Linked DNA regions of Homo sapiens. The protein of the gene in region 1 purifies or fractionates together with the protein of each later gene. This does not show direct contact. Each region holds a gene or a part of one and is shown on either strand. Other genes may lie near its edges.

Evidence for each region.
Region 2: the proteins of CPSF2 (region 1) and PAPOLA purify together in Homo sapiens (co-immunoprecipitation; 2 studies listed by BioGRID and IntAct, with this or other methods). This does not show direct contact.

What each region holds. Positions count from the first base shown.
Region 1 is NC_000014.9:92,124,969-92,131,968, reverse strand, and holds part of CPSF2 (cleavage and polyadenylation specificity factor subunit 2), read right to left. Parts: intron 5,848-7,000; 5' UTR 5,789-5,847; intron 1,019-5,788; 5' UTR 985-1,018; coding exon 836-984; intron 1-835. UniProt on the Homo sapiens protein: Component of the cleavage and polyadenylation specificity factor (CPSF) complex that play a key role in pre-mRNA 3'-end formation, recognizing the AAUAAA signal sequence and interacting with poly(A) polymerase and other factors to bring about cleavage and poly(A) addition.
Region 2 is NC_000014.9:96,549,279-96,565,228, forward strand, and holds part of PAPOLA (poly(A) polymerase alpha), read left to right. Parts: intron 1-3,201; coding exon 3,202-3,344; intron 3,345-6,568; coding exon 6,569-6,669; intron 6,670-6,896; coding exon 6,897-7,135; intron 7,136-11,370; coding exon 11,371-11,433; intron 11,434-13,540; coding exon 13,541-13,615; intron 13,616-15,676; coding exon 15,677-15,772; 3' UTR 15,773-15,950. UniProt on the Homo sapiens protein: Polymerase that creates the 3'-poly(A) tail of mRNA's. Also required for the endoribonucleolytic cleavage reaction at some polyadenylation sites.

The DNA.
Region 1 (7,000 bases):
AATTAATAAAATGGTTTGGATTTTTTTTCTCAAGTTCTAAAGTTTTTTAAATATTTAAGTCCTCTTTTCTTGCAAAATTAGTATAATACTGCAAACATCATTGACTTTTTATTTTATCTTATTTTTTTTTTGAAACAGAGTCTTGCTTTGCGCCCAGGCTGGAGTGTAGTGGTACGATCTCGGCTCAGTGCAATCTCTGCCTCCTGGGTTCAAGCAATTCTCCTGCCTCAGCCTCCCAAGTAGCTGGGATTATAGGTGCACACCATCACACCCGGCTAATTTTTGTATTTTTAGTAGAGTTGGAGTTTCACCATGTTGGCCAGGCTGGTCTCGAACTCCTGAACTCAAGTGATCTGCCCACCTCAGCCTCCTAAAGTACTGGGATTGCCAGCGTGAGCCACTGTGCCCAGCCCATAATTGATTTTTTTTTTGATGAATCAGTATCTCATGGTCATTCTGAGAACCAGCTGACAATGTTAAGCATCAAAAGATGTAGAAAGTAAGCTAATGTGATCTGACCACAGAACTTTCACATGGAAAATGTTTCCTCTTCTCAAATTCTTATGTATTCTTGTTCTTTCCAAAAATTAGCATGCAAAAGTTTCTACTGAAATCCATTAGCTTAAGATTTTGCTGAATTTCAACAAGCAAAGCTTATAAGTCAATCAAAACTTTACAAGTTAAAATGTCACTATAGGTTTTTGGCATAAGTAAAATTAAGCCTTTTGCTATAAACTAGTGTAAAAAGGCAGTATTTATCACATCGAAATGGTATTACAGTACAGAAAAGAGAAGTTGATTTAATAAAAACATAGAATTATGAAATGTAACTTACTTCCTCAGGGAATCAATAATATCCATAGAAAAGTGCTCATCCCAGCCACAGTCCAATAAAAATCTAAACTCATCAACTTGGAGAAGATAGCAAAGGGCAGATTCTTCTTGGACCCCAGAAAGGGTAGTTAATTTGATAATAGACGTCATTTTTTTTGGTCCAGAAACAGCAAGCTAGAAGAGTCTTTCAAATGAAATGAAAACATAATTAAACATAAAAGCACAGTCTGGCATATATAATAAACAAATTGATTAAAATTATTTCAAATCTTTAAGTGCATAGAAATTCCATTAACACGAAAAGCAGTTTAAAGGCCCATTTCCATCATTGCCAAGTTTACTTTTTTTTTTTAAGTGAAAGCAAGTTTATTAAGTCACTGCCAAGTTTAAAAGCACAAAGATAATCTTAGACACAATGAGCCCTTTAGTGGCTCCCTAGTGGGGTAGTGAATGTTGCAATCAAATAGACCCATATATGAATCTACTTCTATGTGATTTGAAGCAAGTTAATTAAACTTTCCTCACCTATGTATCTCAGTCTATAAAACATTAGTATTAGTATACATGTAAAAACAATGTTGAAGTATTTCAAATAATGTATAAATTACCTATAACAGATACTACTGCATCCAAGTTCCTCAATAAATAAATGTTTAGGAATTAATGAACTCATCCTTCAAGGTGAATCTCTTCCTCTTTTATCTTGCTTTGTGATGGCACTGATTTCACTGTATTACAATGATTAGTTTACATGTCTTTCTCTCCCATTAATTAGACCAGTGGTCCTTAAATAGATCCCCTTGAGAATCTGATAAAAACCTATGGACCCTCCCCCTCCCCCACCAACTCTCAACACACTCAAACAAAAAACAAGAGTACATATACACGTAGAAATTCACAAACTTTTCAGGGAGTTTAACATTAAGAACCCTTGCATTGGAATGTGAGCAACTGAAAAACATAGGTGGCATATGTTTGCAACTCCCTAAATAGAACCTGATGCACGCTTCAACATATATCTGATGAAATGCAAATTGGGATGCCTACTACATATATTTCAGGAAAATATAACATGAACACATCTACAGGCCAGGCACGGTGGCTCACGCCTGTGATCCCAGCACTTTGGGAAGCCGAGGCAGGAAGACTGCTAGAGTTCAGGAGTTTGAGACCAGCCTAGGCAATGTAGTGAGACCCTGTCTCTACAAAAAAAAAATATAAGAAAACTGGCTGGTGGCATGTACCTGTAGTCCTAGCTACTCAGAAGGCCAAGATGAGAGAATTGCTTGAGCCCAGGAGTCCGAGGTTACTGTGAGCTATGAGTGCGCCACTAGACTGGGCACAGAGTGAGACCCTAGAGTGTACCCTAGACTGGGCAACAAAGTGAGACTTTGTATCTAAAAAATAAATAAAATAAAATATATACATTTTTTAAAAATGGGATTTAGAACCTGGAACTGTGTGCTATTAAGCAGAAGTTATGAAAATATTCATTAGCAAAGTTCAACTCCACAGCAACATTTCAGATTTTAGCTCCCTAAAATAAATGAGCTTTTCCTGGCTAACTATGCAAGTAGGAGAGAAGGCCACCGAGTTACCTAATAATTTCTTACCACTACTCAAGGCCATCAACAAACTAAGGTAAACTGAATATCCACCTTTCATAAGAGGCTGACAGGGGCTGCTAAACCCACCACATCTCCCAGCCTTGTTTATCTGAGTGACAGCCAAAATCACAAGACTGCTAGGTTATCAATTATCAACGATGTGTACGTCTCCCAGTAAGACCTAATCCCCTACCTCTTCTCCCTCTCAAATCCTTTCAGGATGCTCTCTGGAACTGTGATCATACTCACCTGTAACTGCAACTGCTTCTCTGAAAATTCTCTTCACCTGCTTGTCTTCCCAGGTACCTGGCTGTTCCCTCATCATACTCTTCCTCTTACGGCCTTCTCAAGGTTTTTTGTTGTTGTTGTTTTAACTTCTTGTACCCCCTGTACTTGAAAAGCAGGAGGTATGTGTTCCTTGCTCCTCACTGCAGCTTCTAAACCATGTCTTCTCTTTCCTCTTTCAAATAGTCTAGTCCCATTAAAGCTCTTGCCACCCAGCAGTTCACTATTAGTCTTCCACATTTCCTCTTCACTATGGCATCTATTCACCTGGCCTCATTCACTGAGGACTTTTACATGACCCGTTGTTCCTCTCAGTAACTTCAATACTGACCTGTTGGTTCCTTGACTTCCTCAACTCCAATAATCATTTCACTTCAGCCACCCACCACTACGATTACACCCTAGACCTTATCACTACCAGTAACTGTTCTACTTTCAAAATTTCACTTCAAGCATCTCATTCTCTAACACCTTACTTACTCTAGTATTCCCATTGCAAAAATCCTCTGGGGTCAGTGGTATCTCTCTAATTCGCTGACTACTTTTTCCCTATCCATGACCCCCTCCTGTTTTTACTCAGGTCCTCACCTTCAATTCATGATCTGTTAACATTATTTGCAAACACTCAAATGTCTTGCTCCTCTAGGTACTTCTCTCTACTAGGCTGGCAAAACCCCAGTCCTGATTAACTCCAATCATGCAGGGCCGGCGGGGGGATGGGATATGGAGGAGAATTACAGCTGTGCTATTTGCTTTTTTTTGAGACGGAGTCTCACTCTGTTGCCAGGCTGGAGTGCAGTGTCACGATCTTGGCTCACTGCCACCTCCATCTCCCGGGTTCAAGTGATTCTCCTGCCTCAGCCACCTGAGTAGCTGGGACTACAGGCATGCACCACCACGCCCAGCTAATTCTTTTTGGTAGAGACGGAGTTTCACCATGTTGGCCACAATAGTCTCGATCTCTTGACCTCATGATCCACCTGGCCCATTTTTTTTCTTTTTTTTTTGAGACAGAGTTTCACTCTTGTCACCCAGGCTGGTATACAGTGGCAAGATCTCAGCTCACTGCAACCTCCACCTCCTGGGTTCAAGTATTTCTCCTGCCTCAGCCTCCCGAGTAGCTGGGATTACAGGCACCTGCCACCACACCTGGCTAACGCTATTTGCTCTTTAAATTCATGGCCAAAGGCCTCAAACAGGCCGTAAGTATTACCCTTCAATCTGACTTTTCTTAGTAGGTTGACTTTCAGTTTCTGAGACTACTACTCCACACCTCCTCCTCTTTGTTCAAAGATCACCCATCCCTCCCTCCACCCTAGTCTCAGCTGATAATCTCATTTCATTCTTCAATCAGAAAATAAAATTAGACAATAATTTCTCATTTTCCAGATACTACATCTATTAACCTATCTGCATGTACACTGTTGGGTCTCCTGTTGTATAGAATAGTCCTGCTCCCATCCAAGGCCAATCCCTCTATGTGTGCCGTTGATCCCATTCTTATTCACCTTCTGAAAGACTTGACATCTTCAGTCATTCGCTCTTTCCCCTGCATCAACGTATCACTGATGTACCATTCCCACAAGCTTATAAAAATACTCTAGAATTTCCCAACTTATAAGAACCCTCTCTTAACCCTTCAACCCCCAACAACCACTACATCATTTTTGGGTTTCCCTTTCACAGCAAAAGTTCTCAGAATATTTGTCCACAGATATATCTCCACTTCCTCACCTCCCATTTGCACTAAGTCTGAGAAGCCAGAGAAATGTCCATTGGCTTAAGTTGTATAGAGGTTTATCAATGACCTTTATAAAACACTTCCAGTGATATACTTTCATAACAACTCATTATATTTCTCAAATTTTCTTCTCTCTTCACTGTGACCAAAACCTCTAACTTTTATATATATTTTCCCTGTCTCTAATTTATTCTGAGTCATTCTCAGAGGTAGTCATTCTCTGACCACCCTAAAGTCCTTCTTCACATCCATTACAACATCATTCTATTTCCCTCAAAATACTTAGTGCTCTCTAATTGCTACTTATTTATTTACTTGCTTTGTCTGTCACCTTCTCCCCTCCTGTGCCCACACTGGAATGCAGACTCCATGAAGGTAAAGACCTTCTCTGTTTTCATCACAGTTACATTCCAGCGCCTCCACAGTGCCTAATATACAGTGGTAGCCGATAAATGTTTCTTAAAGGAAGGAATGGGGCATGGCTAGTATTAAATAAGCTCACTGTCCTTACCACACCATAAACCAGAACCCATCCACATGTATTTGCCCTTGCTTGGGAGAGCTCTCTGAGTACAGGAGTTGGCTTGATCCATTTTTTTATCCTTAGTACATTAGCACATCCCTGCACATAGTGGTTGTTCAATAAATAACTGTTGGTAAGTTAAAATTTAAAATATATTGACTTGTTTTTGTTTCCTGAAACAGGATCTTGCTCTGGTACCCAGGCTGGAGTGCAGTGGTGCAATCATGGCTCATTTGCAGCTTCAACCTCCTGGGCTCAAGTGATCCTCCCACCTCAGCCTCCTGGGTAGCTGGGACTACGGGCACGCACCACCACACTCGGCTAATTTTTTGTAGAGACAGGGTTTCACTATGTTGCCCAGGCTGGTCTTTAACTCCTGGGCTCAAGTGATCCACCCACCTTGGCCTCCCCAAATGCTGGAATTACAGGTGTGAGACAGCACGCCTGGCCTTCATGTGTTCTTATTTGGGGTACAAAGACATTAATTCTCTATTTGATGAAAAACGTTTATAAATACAATTTTGGAAAGGACCTTGGAAATTATCCCTGTCAAAAAGCTTACTGTACCACAATTATATTAATGGCCTAAGGGAAACTCTTTTCTACTTAAGTCTTCCTTAATTCCCACTTTCTTCATTTAGATTATGAAGTAACATGCAAGGTATCTTGCAGCTAGAACTGAGTAAGTTCATATTAAAACTGTTTTGCAGACAGACCAAGATTTCAACAGATGAAAAGATATTTTCACTACAATTATTCATAATAAAGCTATATCTTTATCAAACATTCACTACTTACTGATATCTTAGTCGTATATATGATGAAACACCAGGAATTCTGAAGAGTTCTTTATTAATCTAAAAAATAAATAAAAGCCTTATGAATGTGGTATTATGATTTCATTCTGTTTATAATTATGGTGTTTAATTTGTATCTTGCCCTAAGGCATCAGGAGCAGCAGCAAGTAGTATAATACGTGGTCCTTTTTTAAAAAAGAGATCTGTCATTAATTTTAGGAATCTTAAGCTTACATAACAGATAATAAAAGACATAAAAATATTTAGGAAGTTTTTTTTTAAGTTGACATTACCTTATGTTATTGAGAATCATAGAAGAGGTGGGATTTAAGATTACTCACTAAGGATTGGTAAGACATGGGTAGAAACAAAGAGAAGGTACTCAAAACAGAGGAGTAACAGGAGTAAAGGAATACCAGACATCTCAGATCTCTACACTTTTGAGTAAGTTTTAAAGTACCAGTGAAAAAACTAGCCTGGAAAACATTCACAAAAGCAAAAAATAAAAGATAAGGCCTAATGAACAGAAAGGGGCCAGATAGTGAAAGGCCTTGGAAACTGTGAACCTAGTCCTGCAGGCAACAGAAACATTTTAAGACTCATTATCAAGTAGAAAGATGGCATGATACAGGTAATTCTGTATTTTGGGGATATTAGCTGGTGTGTATGATTGATGAGATGATACAGAAAGCAGGGAGATAAAAAGCGAAAGTATTTAGTGGACCACCCCTTCCTAACGTTACTGATTCTATCTTGTGACCAAATTTCTTCAGTCTCAAATTGTATTTTATAGCTCTGCGACATGAATATATTAGTTGTTATCTAAGTAACCAAGGTTTGAAATGCTACATGCTGATTCTTCACTTCTGGGACAGTCTATTATTACCAGTTCCTGATTATTCTTCCCTCAGGAACGCTTTGCACATCATTCCCTTTCTATCCCACTGCCAGTACCCTAATACAGGAAGGGCCTCACTACCTTATGTTTGGGTTTCTCAGTTTCTCTGCCTCCAGTATTTCCTCCCTTCATCCAACCTAAACATTGCTACCAGATTCATCTTCAGAAATACCCTGCACCTATTACCCCTTGCTCAGAAATCTCTGAAGGCTTCTTACTGCTTGAGAAAAGACAAACCAAATGCCTTAACTGGCAATGGAGGTTGCCAGGAAGCCACCCTGACATCACTGCTCAATGTCTTCAGGCCCAGCTCAT
Region 2 (15,950 bases), 4.4 Mb from region 1:
CACTCTGTTGCCCAGGCTGGAGTGCCGTGGCACAATTTCGGCTCACTGCAAGCTCCGCCTCCTGGGTTCACGCCATTCTCCTGCCTCAGCCTCATGAGTAGCTGGGACTACAGGTGCCCACCACCACACCCAGCTAATTTTTTGTATTTTTAGTAGAGACGGGGTTTCACCGTGTTAGCCAGGATGGTCTCGATCTCCTGGCCTCGTGATCCGCCTGCCTCAGCCTTCCAAAGTGCTGGGATTACAGGTGTGAGCCACAGCACCTGGCCAAAAATTTTCTTCTTAACCTAATGGTTTACTAAAAATTTAGTTAACTAAATAAAAATTGACAAAAATGTACCATTCTCAATGTACTATTTATACACAGACTGTTCAGTGCATGTTTCCACATATTTATTGTAAAATTTTCCATCAAGCAGTTTTATTTTAAAATTAAAGTATCTCAGCTAGAGCTTAGCCTCAGGAAAACAAAACTAAAATATCAAGTTAAACACTTGCTTTCTAATTGTCCTTTAGTGTTGTATTATTAATAGGTTAAATCAATTGTACTTAAATGTAAATTTATCACATACAGAAAATATAAACATTTTGGACCCGGGAATGGTGGCTCATGCTTGTAATCCCAGTGACTTGTGAGGCTGCAGTAGGAGGATCCTTTGAGGCTGGGAGTTCAAGACCATCCTGGGCAACACAGCAAGACTCCGTCTCTAAAAAAAAATTTTTTTGAGAATGGTGGCCTGGGCCTTATAGTCCTAGCTACTTGAGAGGCTGAGGTGGGAAGATCATGTGTGCCCAATAGTTCAAGGCTGCAGTGAACTTATGATTATGCCATTGCACTTCAGTCTGAGTGACAGAACGAGACCCTGTCTCTTACAAAATAATAATTTTTTTAAAAAAGTATACAAACGTTTTATGTTTTCAGAAGTGAAAGTAGATTATGTTCTTTAGAACTTGGCTATTTCTTATGAATATTTAATTCATAATCAAATAGCTATTTAATAAACAGCTATTTATAACAGATAATTAGATTTCTCAGAATCATATATTCAGATTACCTTTTTAAACTCTTAGTATTTCCATGACAATATTGATATTTGGAACCATCTTGTGTACATTTTAAGTAAATTTGAATATAAGATGTTTTATTATTTCTTTAAATATAGTCATCTAGAATATAAAGAGAATCATTAATGATTGGAAATTTGTTTTTTGGTCCAAAAATTCTATCAGATGAAGTAACTATAATTTCACAGCAAACCTACTTTTAACATTTTATTTATACACAGACTGTTCAGTGCCTGTTACCACATACATATTTTTAAAAGGTTTTTGATTAAACTTGCTATTTTGTGACCTGCCTTTTTTTGTGTTAACATATCGTGACCATCTATCCAAATTACATTTTTAGTGGTTGTTTAATATCTCTTTATATAGCTACAGTATGATTAAATCTACCCTGTATTTGAGATCATTTAGATTATTTCTAAGTTTGCATTAGTAAAATAGCACTTTCTTGCTTAATAACAAGTGTCTAGGAGTCAAGATCTATGAATGTTTTGTTTGGACTCTTATAAATAGCTTCCTTTTATTAACTGCTTTTTGCAAAGCACTGTACGAGTCCTTTTTATATTTAATATTCCACCAACCCATGGGTATTGTCTTTAGTAGCAGAAACTGAGGGGTTGAGAACCTTGCCCTGGGTTATGTAGTATGAGCTGTGAATTGGACCTAGGTCTGACTGCAAAGTATGTGTGTGTGTTTCTTTCTGTAGTATGTTCTTTGTTTTATTTTATTAAAAATTATGATAGAATATTTATGACTATTTGGCTTTGAGGTCTCTTGCTACCAAACTTGATCTGGATATAGAAGCAAACAAAGCAAAGTAGCTTAATGCTGTTTTGTGTTTAGACCAACCAGATAAACTTTCACAGTTTATCCCCAACAGTGGCCTGTTAACTCACAGCTGTTTGGCCACTTAGTGAGGCAGGTAGGCAGGTAACTGTAGAACTGAATATAATTTACTTACTGAATAAATCCTCATATCTAGTGGAGAGTAAGATTGGTAGCATTGTTGAATAGAAGAGATACTCATTTATAATATTAGGTACTTCTATTTCACGACTGACTTCATAAGCAAATGGCATTACTCTCTCTTCCTCTCCTTTCTACCAAATCTCATCTTCCCCATTTGATCAATTTTCATTCATGTACATAAGTGATATGTCTAGTGCTAAATCAAAGATAAGAATATTTTGTTATTTGGGGAACTAGAAAGCAGAGAATGCAGGCACATGTATAAGGAATGTATTTTTGTCAACAGTATAAATTATTTTCATTAAAATGTTTCTGTAGGTAAGTGAACACAGGCTAAACATTCTGGAAAAAAAAATTAAGCTGAATGTAATATTACAGTAGTACCAAATAGCGAAAATTTAAACTCTGTTACTAGAAAGCAACTTTAATTCCATGAAACCATCCATAGTTTTTGGTTTTTCTGCATTATTTGTTTTGGGGTGCTTTGATTTTTAAGGAGGACCAACATTAGGATTTGTATATTATGTTTAGTTTTCAGAAAGTTATTTCTGCTTTTCTTTTCACAGGATAATTTACAGTATTAAGCATGCCATTTAAAAAATTCTGAATTGCAATTAGAGCACTGAAGTCTCTTGCTTTTGAGAGAGGCTCTTTTTATTGACAAATAGTAAGGAGTGGCAATAAGTTACACTTTTTGAAATTAAAAAAATTTTATATTTATTGTAGGATAATTAGAAATCTATATGTAAACAAAATCACTTCTAGTCCCACTTTCCAGAGTCATTGTAGTCCCATGTTTATTGTTGAGACATTTCTTTCTTGTGTGTGTATATTTTTAGAGTTCTCTGATTTGAGATTCTTGTGTTTTTATATTATAGTGTTTTTAATTTGTGTTGTATCTTACAGTCAGTATGTACATTTAATACGGCATTTCTTTCTCCCTTTTTCTCCCACATAAGAACTATATTTAATGTTGATGCCTTCTTAGAAGAAAGTACTTGACTCCCAAATCGTTGCCTTTTAGAGTCAGCATGGCACATCTAACTTTCGTAGATTTAGTGATCTGTGCTTTTCAGTAAAAATCATATATGTTAAGTAAAAGGTTTCCATGTTTCAACATTTGGATGAAATAAAGATATATTTGATAAAATGTTTTATTGTTTGCAGCATTCAACAGAAGGTGTCAAATTGACAGCTCTCAATGACAGCAGCCTCGACTTGTCTATGGACAGTGATAACAGCATGTCTGTGCCTTCACCTACTAGTGCTACGAAGACCAGTCCATTGAACAGTTCTGGCAGCTCTCAGGGGTAAGGAAAAAGAGGGAAATAGAAGTGGAGGGGCTGTTTGCTAAATCAATCAGATACATTCTCTTTTTGCTATTAAAGTCATCTATTTAGAATGTTATTTTCATTCCATCTACTAATTTTTTTTTAAATAGCAATTTAATTCCCAGGTTTGGGGATAGTACTTTTTGGTTTTGTCTTGTCATACTTAACATTTTATTTTTGAGACTGATAATGTCTTCAGTCAGATGTGAATGAATGTTAGCACATAACCCCTCCAAATTCATGTATTTAGATAGCTACTGCTACAGTGCACTGTATGGTGTGCTGATGAGAACAGACAAAAGGAACAAAACCACCTTTCTGTCCCAGAGCTGCTTATACCTTTGTAACAGGGAATGTGTCTATGATAGTTAGGGAAACCTGTTTTAGAAGAGCTAGATATCTGTCTAACATTTACAGCAGTTAAAATTTTAAAAATTTATTATTATTTTGAGAAATGGGGTCTGGCTGTGTTGTTTAGGCTGGCCTTGAGTTCCTGGATTTAAGCGATCCTCCTACTTCAACCTTCTGAGTAGCTGAGACTACAGGCGCATGCCACTGCCCTGGGTATGAAGCAGTGAAAAATTTTCAGCCAGGTGCAGTGACTCACACCTGTAATCCCAACACTTGGGGAGGCTGAGGTGGTAGGATCACTTGAGGCCAGGAGTTCAAGACCAGCCTGGGCAACGTAGTGAGACTCCCATCTCTAGAAAAAAGTAAAAGAATTAGGTGTGGTGGTATGCACCTGTAGTCGTGGCCACTCAGGAGGCTGAGGTGGGAGGATTGCTTGAACCTGCAAGGTTGAGACTACAGTGAGCTGTGATCCCACTGCTGTACCCCAGCCTGGGCAACCAGAGTGAGACCCTGTCTTAAAAAAAAAAAAAAAAAAAAATTTTGAGTCTCGCTCTGTCACCCAGGCTGGAGTACAATGGCGCGATCTCGGCTCACTGCGACTTCCGCCTCCCAGGTTCAAGCGACTCTCCTGCCTCAGCCTCCGGAGTAGCTTGGATTACCGTCACCTGCCATCATGCCCAGCTGATTACTGTATTTTTGTGGAGACGGGGTTTCACCATGTTGGCCAGGCTGGTCTTGAATTCCTGACCTCAGGTGATCTGCCCACCCTGGCCTCCCCAAAGTGCCAGGATTCCAGGCATGAGCCACCACGCCCGGCCTGTATTACAATTTAACCAATGGCAGAAGTGCGGGTTGGGGAGGATTCCCTGGATGAGTGTGAAATAGAAAATGCTGAGGTGTTGTGGATGTGTTTTTTTCTTTCTTTTGGACTTCATGTGTATATGTTTTTAGGCAAATCATGCATAATCCAAAGACTTCAGGCCTGAATATGTCCTGTAAGTGTTATCATTTTAAAAGTTTTTTTTTAAGTGAAGAAACTAACATTTTAATAAGAATTTTGGGATCTGTGAAAGTCTGTGTCCTTTGAGTGTGTGCACAAATATAAAATGTGTACAACTGTACTAAATAATTTCACAAATTTAGTTTTGAAGTTTAGTTTCTTGAAGTAATACTAAGTAACTTCTGTAAATAAAACTTCTGGGTTTTTAGAATACGATTGTATATTTGCTCAACAAGCAGTGAGTGTTTATTATGTACTAGGCACCTTGCTAGCCATTTCAGGCTTTCTTCAGCATCTGTGGTTGTTCTCTGGCCAACTATCCTTTTCTTTTTAGTCATTTAATATTTGTGCCCTTGAGGGCTCTCTCATTATTCTTTTGTCTGTTTATCCCCTCTTGATATTGTCCCTGAGTGGTAACACCTGCTCTGTTGACTACATTTACATTCATATACCAATGATATCCATAGCTTTAATAAGTTGACTGCTCCGTGGTTCCCTGTGGATGTCATGTAAGTACCAAAAATAACAAGTCTTCGAAGTGTTGCCTACCTCCTCATGGTGTCATCATTCACCAGTTTCAGAGTGTGGGTGATAGCTCTGAGAGAGAGAGAGAGAAAGAGAGACAGACACACACACACACAGACACAGATAGAGACAGAGAGAGAAACCAGAGGACTTTTCTGCTTTTGTTTTTCTTTTAGGAGGTAATAAAACCGTGAATTTATTTAAATGCTAATGTGTAGGATTTACTTGAGACAGGAAAATTGGATGGGAGAGTAAAGGAGTGTGATGATTTGAGTTTCTTGAGATGACAGGAGTTAGTGAGATTTAGAACATAGATTGGGCTTTTTTATATAATAAGGAATAATTTCTTTGTATAGGAAAGAATAGGGGTTAATTATAGAAATAGGTGTGTCTCTTTAATATTTATACTTAGAATTTGGGGTAATACTTGGCTAGTGGCTTTTGGTTGGTTGTTAAGTAGGAAGGTCATTTGAGATTGGCATGAGAAAGAGAAAATGAGAGAGAAACTTCGGGGGAGTAAAGAGGGTTTAAAATAAGTTATTTTAAAAGTAAGATATTGAAATAATCCCCTTGTCACTTAAAGGTCTTTAACTGGGCCACTGGATGGGCTTTTAGGGTTTTATAAAACTCTTATACTTTGTATACAGAAGTTTATTTCTGTTTTCTGTTTCTCAGAACATTTGCTCATTCATAACTTTTTTTTTTTTTAATAATATAGGTTTTTTTTTTTTTTTCTTGTAGAGACGAGGGCTCACTGTGTTGTCCGGGCTAGTTTCAGACTTGAGCTCAAGCAATCCTTCCACCTCACCTCCCAGAGTGCTAGGGTTACAGGCGTGAGCCACCATGCCTGGCCTCTTATTAATAACTTTTTAAAGGATTTTTGTTCGAAAAAATCCTTCAGTTAAGTCTCTTAGCCAAAATTAGCTAAGAATAGATCTTTTAGAACCACTCTGGCGATATAGTAGCCAGCCGCCATATGTGACAATTTAAATTTAATTAAAATTAAATAGTTTCTCACTAGTCATATTTTAAGTGCAGAGTAGCTATGTTTTAATAGTGGCTACCATGTCCAGTAGCACAGATATAGAACATTCTGTCATCTCAGGAAGTAACATTAGACAGTGCTGCTTTAGAAGGTTTGTGTACTATTTACTGTTGTTATACTTTATCCAATAAAGTCAGTTGCTAAATTGTATGTATAGGAAGTAAAACCAAAGAATCATTTACTTTACAAAATAATTTCTATATATGTTATAGATTATTGTAATTTTTTTTTTATTTTTCTATTTTTAAATTTTGAGACAATTTTTAATTTTTTTTTTTTTAGCAGAAACAGTCCTGCTCCAGCTGTAACAGCAGCATCTGTGACCAACATACAGGCTACTGAAGTTTCTGTGCCACAAGTAAATTCCAGTGAAAGCTCAGGGGGTAAGGAGATTGGGTTTGTCAGGTTTGAGAATTCTTACATTATATTTGGTTTAGCCTTCATTTTGAAAAGTGGGTTTGTTAAGTAGTTGAAATTCAGTTTTTTAAATGCCAGTTTATTTTTTGCATGTAAAGTTATTCATGAAATCAAATTCAGAGAAACAAAAACTTACAACTTGATACTGATTTGGTTATTTTAATTTGTATATACTCATATATTTGCTGCTTAGGTACATCGAGTGAAAGCATTCCTCAAACTGCCACACAACCAGCCATTTCTCCACCACCAAAGCCTACGGTCTCCAGAGTTGTTTCTTCAACACGTCTGGTAAACCCACCACCTAGATCTTCAGGAAATGCAGCAACTTCAGGAAATGCAGCAACAAAAATACCTACTCCTATAGTAGGAGTCAAGAGGACATCCTCACCTCATAAAGAAGAGAGTCCCAAGAAAACCAAAACAGAAGAGGTATATATATGAAAAACATATTAGTTAGCCATGGCAACACCAACTGCCTATTTTTAAATCCAGTGGAAGAAAAGTTTATGAACCAAAATAGAGAAGGATCAAGGAACAAAGCTTTTAGAAAATTTTAGGTGTGTCTGTAGTGCTTTAGTGCTGTAGTTTCTCTTCACCTTTCCCATTCTTCTCAGTAACTACCTCTGCTATAAAGCTATGCCCTCTCATTTAAACTTCTTTAGTGTGTGTAGTTAGCAGGTATTGTCTACAACAGAATTTAACATGAAATTACATGTATTCTTAACTTATTATTCTCTAATGACTACCTTTTATTTGTACTGATTTTTTGATGGTCCTTTGGACAGTTTTTTGCTTCTGTGATCCAAAAGGAGTTTTGGAGTTTCTCTACTGTACTTGGTGTTATAGGACCATCAAATACCAGAGGTTCTCAGGGACTTCTTACTGAATGATAAGTGCATGCAGCCAGATTAGTTTTTGAACCTTAAATGGTTAGCTCTCTAACCCTTAAAGAAACTTTCTAGCATCATTTGCATTTTTGTTTTTTAACTCCTGGGCACAGGCGATCCTTCTGCCTCCCAGGTAGCTAGACCCACAGGTGCATGCCACCATTTCCAGCTTAATTTTTTGTTTTTTGTTTTGAGACAGGGGCTGGCTCTTTTGCCCAGGTTGGAGTGCAGTGGAGCAATCTCAGCTCACTGCAACCTCTGCCTCCCGGGCTCAAGCAATCCTCCCACCTCAGCCTCCCAAGTAGCTGGGACTACAGGTGCGCACCACCATGCCTGCCTAATTTAAAAAAAGATTTTTTTGTAAAGACAGAGTCTTGCTATGTTATCCAGGCTTGTCTCCAGCTCCTGGGCTCAAGCGATCCTCCTGTCTTGGTCTCCCAAAGTGTTGAGGTCACAGGAACCACTATGCTTTGCAAGCTGGTATTAACCTTTTATACTACCTGGTTTATAATTGTTACAGTCTTAGTTTTGGGAAAACCATTAAAACTGTACATTGATTTCGTATGAGTCTTAAAATAGAGGTAGTCTTGTTACACAATTTTATTTCTCCCTCGAGTCACTTTCATGTTGTTTTCCAATCAGTGAGGCATTTGCAATTGCCCCAGAGATGACAGTCTAAAAGCACCAATTTCATTGTGTTTTTTTTTTTTGCTAAGAATGTATTTAGTAATTTACTTACTACAACACAATTTCTTTAGAGTGGAAAAAAAACCCCTCTAGATTTCTCATGGATTCTATTATGTTTTGATTAAGAATGGTGAAAAATTATTTTATTATTTTATTATTTAGCTTATTCTCTGAAGACTTTTTCTTTCTTTTTTTTTTTTTTGGAAATAGCTGCTATTAACTAAAAGTAATCTGATGAATTTTGTCACTCTTAAGATGGTAAATGAGAATGAAAAACGGGTATTGTATAGTACTTTAAATCCCCCAGATTACTTACGATGCCTAATACAATGTAAATGCTGTTTAAATTGTTGTTATGATGTATTTTTTAATTTGTGTCATTTTTATTGTTGTATTATTTTTTATTTTTCTAAGTATTTTTGATCCATGGTTGGTTGAATTCGCAGATATGGATTCCACAGATATGGAGGGCCCACTGTAAATAATCATAACTTAGAAGATGTGTTCTGAAAACTCATCTGTGTCTGTGTAATTATCTCTTAGGGCAGTGATTTTCATCATTGGTTGTACAACAGAATTAGTTTTTGGGGTTTTTTTTGTTGTTGTTGTTTTTCAATAAAGATTTTAGGGCTTTCTCCAAACTGAATCAGAGATCTTCTAGAAGTTAGGCCTGGAGATCCTATTAAGAGCCCTGCTGCCACATGATTGGGTTGTGCAGCAGCTAAAGAATATACTCAATTTTTGTGTCAATTACACATTCAGACTACTGATACTGGTTTGAAGTTGTCACGGCATTTCAGAACTCAAATTTCTTTTGACATTAGTAAAGTGTATTTAAGCATAATTCTATGCATTTAACATTTGGTTTTCTTTATGTTAAAAATGGCACCCTAAGAGCTCTAAATAAGTTTGTACTAGTGCAGTATTTTGCAATTTTGTTTGCACTTACCTTGGTAGAATAACACTTGTGTTTCTTGTCTGGTTTAGAAAAGCAATAAGAATATAGAATTTTTAAACTTAAGTATGGAAAATTAAAAATACATATAAAAGAGTCATTTTATGTACCTGTGTACCCATCACACAGCTTCTGTTATAATTAACTCTCAGCCAATCTTTGTAATCTTAATTCTTTCAGCCTTTTTCATTTTCTCTTGCCATTGAATTACTTAAAAGCAAAATCCAAACATGTTTCATTAGAATCTTAAAAATCATATCTAAGAATGAAAGCATTAACAGTAAAATTAGCCTACTCACAAAAATTAACAATTTATTAATATCATCAAACATCTAGTCAGTGCTCAAATGGCCCCTGATTGTTTCATTGATTTTTTAAAAAATAGGCTGTTTGTTTAAATCTGGAAGCAGAAAAAGATCCCTGTGTTGCAATTGTTTGATATCTCTAAGTGTCCTTTAAAATATAGATTCCCTCCTCCATCCCTCCCCCACTTTTCCCTGTAATTTTTTTTTTTTTTTTGGTGTATGTTTTCTCAGTCTGGATTTTGCTTACAGTATTTCTACGGAGTTGATTAATAGAACTATAGCATTTTAAGAAGATAAGGGGTATTAGGTTATTCCATGGGCTAATCTCATTTCCTACCAGAAGAACTTGCTGTTTAGTGGCTTTTCCAGTTACGGATCTAGTTACAGTTAGAGGCAGGATTAGAACCCAGGCCTAAATCTCATGGTGCTTTAGTCAAAAGAAATTTGCTGTGGTAGAAGTAATCCTGATTTTGAAGCCCTTCTTAATTGGGTCTTTTATTCTCTGCTAATGAGTACTTGGTATTAGAAATTTTAGCAAAGCAGAAAGAAATACTGGCCTCACTCAGTAATGCACTAACGTGTATATAGATAGGAAAGTTTTAGATACTCTGAGGTAGTTTAGTTCTGCTTAATGGTCATCATATCCTAAGGTTTTTCAAATAAATATAAATGGTAATGTAAAATAAAAATCGAAAATGTTTGCTCTATTTCCTGGATTATAGCTAAATTAACCTCTCTCTCTCTCTCTCTCTCTCTCTCTCTCTATATATATATATATACACACACACATATATATATGTATATATATATATGTGTATATATGTATATATTTAAAACTTTCTGTATGGAAAATTTCAAACATGTCATAAGTATAATGAACTGTCATGTTTGCATCACCTAGCTTCAACAGTTAACAACTCACAGCCAGCCTTGTTTTATCTACATACCCACATCACTTCCTTCCCCATTGTTTTGAAGCAAACCCCAGGCATAACAACCAAAAACATTTCTTTGTATATCTAAAAATAAGGACTTCTATAAAATATAAGTACCGTATATTTGTCACACAAATATTAATAATCCATAGTTTTACATATCAGTCAGTATTCAGATTTGGCCAATTGTGACACATTACTATTTTTAAAGTTTGCATATTTGCAGGGTACAAATAAAGTCCTTATTGGAATTGATCGATACTGTATTAAATCTCTTCTAAGCTATAAGCCTGTGGTTTTTCTATGCCTGTTTTAAAAGTCACATTTAAAATTAAATTTTAATTCTGCTGAGAAAATAGTGTCAAAATAGTTATTAAGACCCAAGCAAGGCATTTCTCAAGTCTTGTATTCTGTAGGATGTTAGTAGGTCGTACCAAGAGCAAGGATTCTCTGGTTAAGCTTGGGAAAATTAAAGTGGAGTTCTTTCTTGATAGAATTTATTAGAACCTTTTATGTGCCACTCTGTGTGAATCTCCCAGAATGGGGGTGATACTATGCCAAGTTCCTAAAGTTGTATGATCAGGAACTCTTTTTTTTTTTTCTTTTCCTTACAAAATATATTTCTATGAACTCTTAGTGGTTTTGGAAATGTACTTTAGGTGGTGATCTGCAGTAACAGTTTTCCTAATGCTCTTTTTAATTTTATTAGCTACTGAAGCCAAATTTAATCTGATAAAAACATTTTAAAAGAGGGACCAGTTATCTATTTTAAGGCTGTAGTTGATCTTACAGGTTTAATTATTTTATAGTTTTAAAGTTTATAAAGTAAAGCATTGATTGGCAAATAATCTAAATTTTTCATTTTAGAGAATAAAGCTTTTTTTTTTAAAAACAGGATGAAACAAGTGAAGATGCTAACTGTCTTGCTTTGAGTGGACATGATAAAACAGAAGCAAAGGTATACTAATTTAGCCTTTAGAATACATACACAATTAAGAGTACAGAAGATGTAATAGAAATGTCTCTAAAATATTGTATTTTTGTGCTATAGGTTTTAGATTTTTTTAGTATTGTTTATTACTGTTAATTATGTAATGCTGAACACTGAAGGGAATATTGTGATGAGTGAAACACATTCTGTGCCTTTAAAGGAGCTTATAATTAAGTAGACAAGATAAGTCATGAATGTAATTAATTACATTATCAAAGAAAAAGTAATTGAGGGCTGGGGGCCACGGGGCAAGAAAAGTAAGATGTTATTTCTGACTGCAGAAATAGCAGTACATGTCTTCATTGAAGAAAGAAGTAGCATTTGAAGTGGTCCTCAAAGGATACATAGGATTTTTGATAGTCCGGGCTGAGATCATGATCTGTCTCTTTGGGTTGAGAATTTGTTATGATTATAGAAGCAGTTTTTGGCGTAAGGTTTTGGCTAGAACCTGGGGTACATGGGGCTTGAATGAGGTGTAGATGGGGTGGAAGAAATTTTTTTTTCCCCAAAATGTAAAAGACTCATTTTTTTTCCCTAGAAATTGAAATCTATTGAAGGCTTTTAACTTTCTTTCCTTGTGGAAAAATTGGAAATTCTCCCCCTTCTCCCAAATTATCCAGATTTCTATGATGGATATTTTAACAAAACTCTCTTAGGTTTTGTGTGTGCCCTCATAATGCCCTTGCTTTATAATTTTGATTCACTTTGTAAACCAAGAAAAAAGTATGTGTATCATTATGTAATCTACAAAATTATTAATGGCTTCATAGAATGCTGTCTTAAGGCTATGATTATTTTTATCCAACCAATTTCCTATCCATAGCAATTATTTCCATTTAAAAAAGAAAGTTGTGCTTTCCTGCTGTAATATTGGTTACAGCTAAATACCATATCTGCCATTCATTCATGTTTATTTACTTAGCATAAATTAATGGAAGAAGAATTATTGAGGAAAATAGTATGCTTTATCTTAAAGTTTGGTATACATCACCAAGTTGTCCTCCAGGAAGGCTGCATGTCTTCCATTCCTACTTCTTACATCTTATTTACCTTTTTTAATTTCATAGGAGAAAACAATATTTCGTTTTTTTTTTTTTTGGTATAGTTTCATTGAAATTGAAGTTTTTATATTTTTCTTTTCTTCTTTGTCCTTTTTTTGGTTTTTTTTGAGATGGAGTCTTGCTCTGTCGCCCAGGCTGGAGTGCAGTGGGACAATCTCGGCTCACTGCAACCTCTGCCTCCTAGGTTCAAGCAATTCTTCTGCCTCAGCCTCCCGAGTAGTGGGGATTACAGGCACCCGCCACCATGCCTGGCTAATTTTGTATTTTTAGTAGAGATGGGGTTTCACCATGTTGGCCAGGCTGGTCTTGAACTCCTGATGTCATGATCTCCCCACCTCGGCCTCCCAAAGTGCTAGGATTACAGGTGTGAGCCACCACGTCTGGCCTATATTTTTATTTTCATTTATTTGTGTAGATATTATTTTCTTTTGTGTACTGCTTTTAAAAAGTTTAGAGTGATGGCATGACATACTTTACCCTGTGTTTTCTGATGAGTAGAATCAGTGCACTGATTACTAGAGAGGGGTGAAGAGACCATAAGGAGGGAGAAATCTTTTTTAGACATATTTTCTACTTTTAATTAAAGGTGTGAGGTTATTTTATTTAGTAGTATTGAATAAGTTTTTTTTTTTTTTTTTCCTCCCACAAAGCTAAGAACTGTCCTTGGGTTTATGCTCTGTTATTGTCTGGGCAACATTTCATGATGTGCCTATGTGTGTTTTTAATTATTGTTTGCTTAAAATGTCCCAAGTTGGAGCTGGTTGGAAAGTCATGAGCTAGTTTGACCCATGCCTTATAAGATTTAAGTAGGCAAATAGAAATTTATTAATATCTGAAATGGTGAAATAACCTACAACATCTACTGACTAGATGTTTTTGTAATGTAGTCACATCTTTCTCTTGATCCCTCCTGTCTTCCAGTTTGTCTTCTTTATTAGCCACCAAACCCAGTTATGTTCTTTTATTCTTTTTTAAGTCTCTTTTCCCCCTTCCCCATCCTCTTTGTCTCACAGGAACAACTTGATACAGAGACAAGTACAACTCAATCAGAAACTATTCAGACAGCGGCTTCTCTGTTGGCCTCTCAGGTACTAAGTGCAAAAAGCAAGGAGAATTTTGTAAATGTCCTTAAGATTAGTGTGGTATATTGAATTAAAGTGAGAGTTCATAGAAGACTATTAAAATTAATCTTTCTGAAAGTAATTACTTGCTAGCCTATAAACGTATTTATTGTAGTTTTAAGGCAGGGCCCTGGATTTGACGGAACCGTTCTCTGGGACTGTTTCGATGTTAACCCATCCCCTTATATTAATATATTATTTGATACTGCAAATCATTTAAATTCTCACTAGTCATTTACACAGGGTTCATATGTAGGTTTTATTTGTAGGTCAAAAGTGAAATTAAAACTAGGAATGAACTAAAAAACATTCTTCGTGGATTTCTTTTGCAAAGGCTAATATATTTTTATTTTAAAAATGTATTTCTGCCTTATTTTTCCACTACTGATTTCAGTTAGTTATTTAATATAGCCCATAGCTCTTCAGAATTATGTTTTCATTTGTCCTAGCAATTCTACTTGTGACAGACCCTCACATACAGAATACAGTAGGCATCTGGAATCTTTTTTCATTGATTTGTGAACCTTCATTTTGTTGAATAATTTTTTTCTTGAATCCTTTCACATGAATGAACCCTAACATCTAGCTCAAATTCTGACACAAAGTAGATATATTCTTTAATAGATGATAAAACTGGTTAATGTCTACAAAGTAACTGAGATAACAACTGCTGCTGTACTGATATGATACTATGTACTATGATGATATTTTGCTGCTCCTGTGCAGCTCCGAGTTATTTTAACGTGATCATTTAAACATGTGCTTTTGCTAGATGTTAACTTTTATTGACTCTAAAGATATATAAATATTATGTTTAGTTTCTGAAATACCTTTTCCATAATCTAATAAAACTTTAGGGGGAGTAACTAACATCAGGAAGTATGCTTAATATTGATACGTGGACAAACTTGTTTATCAGTCTTAAACTGTCCTGTGATTGTGATTGCATGTTTTTTGGTTTGCCACATACTCTCGGGACTTATTTTCATAGTTTTGTCTTACTGAATTTATCCCTATAGTAATTAGTACCCATGGGTATTTGCCTTTTAGATATTTTTATGAGTGAGTAGAATTTTCTTTCTAATGAAAGGATTCATAGAGCCATAGAGAGAAAAATCACCCAGTTATGTAAGAAGAATGATTATGTTGATTTAAAAAAAAATTCATTCCTATCTTTGGTAATGTTAGGGGCGTACTTATTTCTGGGGAGGTGATAATATTGTGGCTATACCTAATAAAGAGTTCTTATTGTTTTGAGATAAATCTGGAAATATTTATAGATGAAATGATAAGATCTCTAGGATTTGCTTCAGAATAACACAAGGTGAATTGAAAGTGGGAGGACAGTGGCTTTGATTTGATAATTGATGAAGCTGGGTAATGAATACATGGGGATGCATTATACAGTGCTCTCTACTTTGTGTATGTTTGGAATTTTCCATAATAAAACTTTTAAAGATCCATCTCTGTATTTTTTTAGTGTTAAAGAACGCTTGTGATTTAATCTAATTAATATGAAAATAATCTACCTAAAATTTAGGATGATTAAATTATTGCTTAGCTGTATATATTTGTTTAATTTACAGTGTCAGAAAATAATAAATTTACTGCTGCTTCTGTATATAAAATGAGCTTTGAGTATTCTCCCACTTGGGGGTGCTCCAATACTAGTTAATATTACAGCTATTAGTGTTGTAATAAGTGAATACAGTTTAGCAGTAACTTAAGCATTATATGATAGGTGATTCTTAGAGGAACAATTTTAAAAACTATTTGAAATTACTTAGGAGTTTTTAAAATATTATTAAAATATACCTATTTGAAAATTCCTTTGTTGAACACATTATTTGTTGAACAAATAATGTGATAGGCATATTTACATTCCATTTTGACAACATTATAGAGTTTTTAAATTTGTAATACTTTTCTTCTTAGAAGGTTTCTTAGGAAGTAAAGCAATGGAAAATACATCTCATTGTTAAATTATGGTGCTTTGAACAATGTTGTGTTCTTTGCTTTCATTCTCAGAAAACATCCAGTACAGACCTTTCTGATATCCCTGCTCTCCCTGCAAATCCTATTCCTGTTATCAAGAATTCAATAAAACTGAGATTGAATCGGTAAAAACAACCTCAGGGGTCCATAAACAATATCTGCCAACTCAACCTGTTGTCTTCAAATGCTAAAAAAGGAGAATGGAGGGTACAAGACTAGACATGACTGAAATGGATTTGGGTTTTTTGGTGACCTCCCTTACTGGGCTAATCAGCACTTGATCGGAAGTCCAGGTTAGTATGTGAAG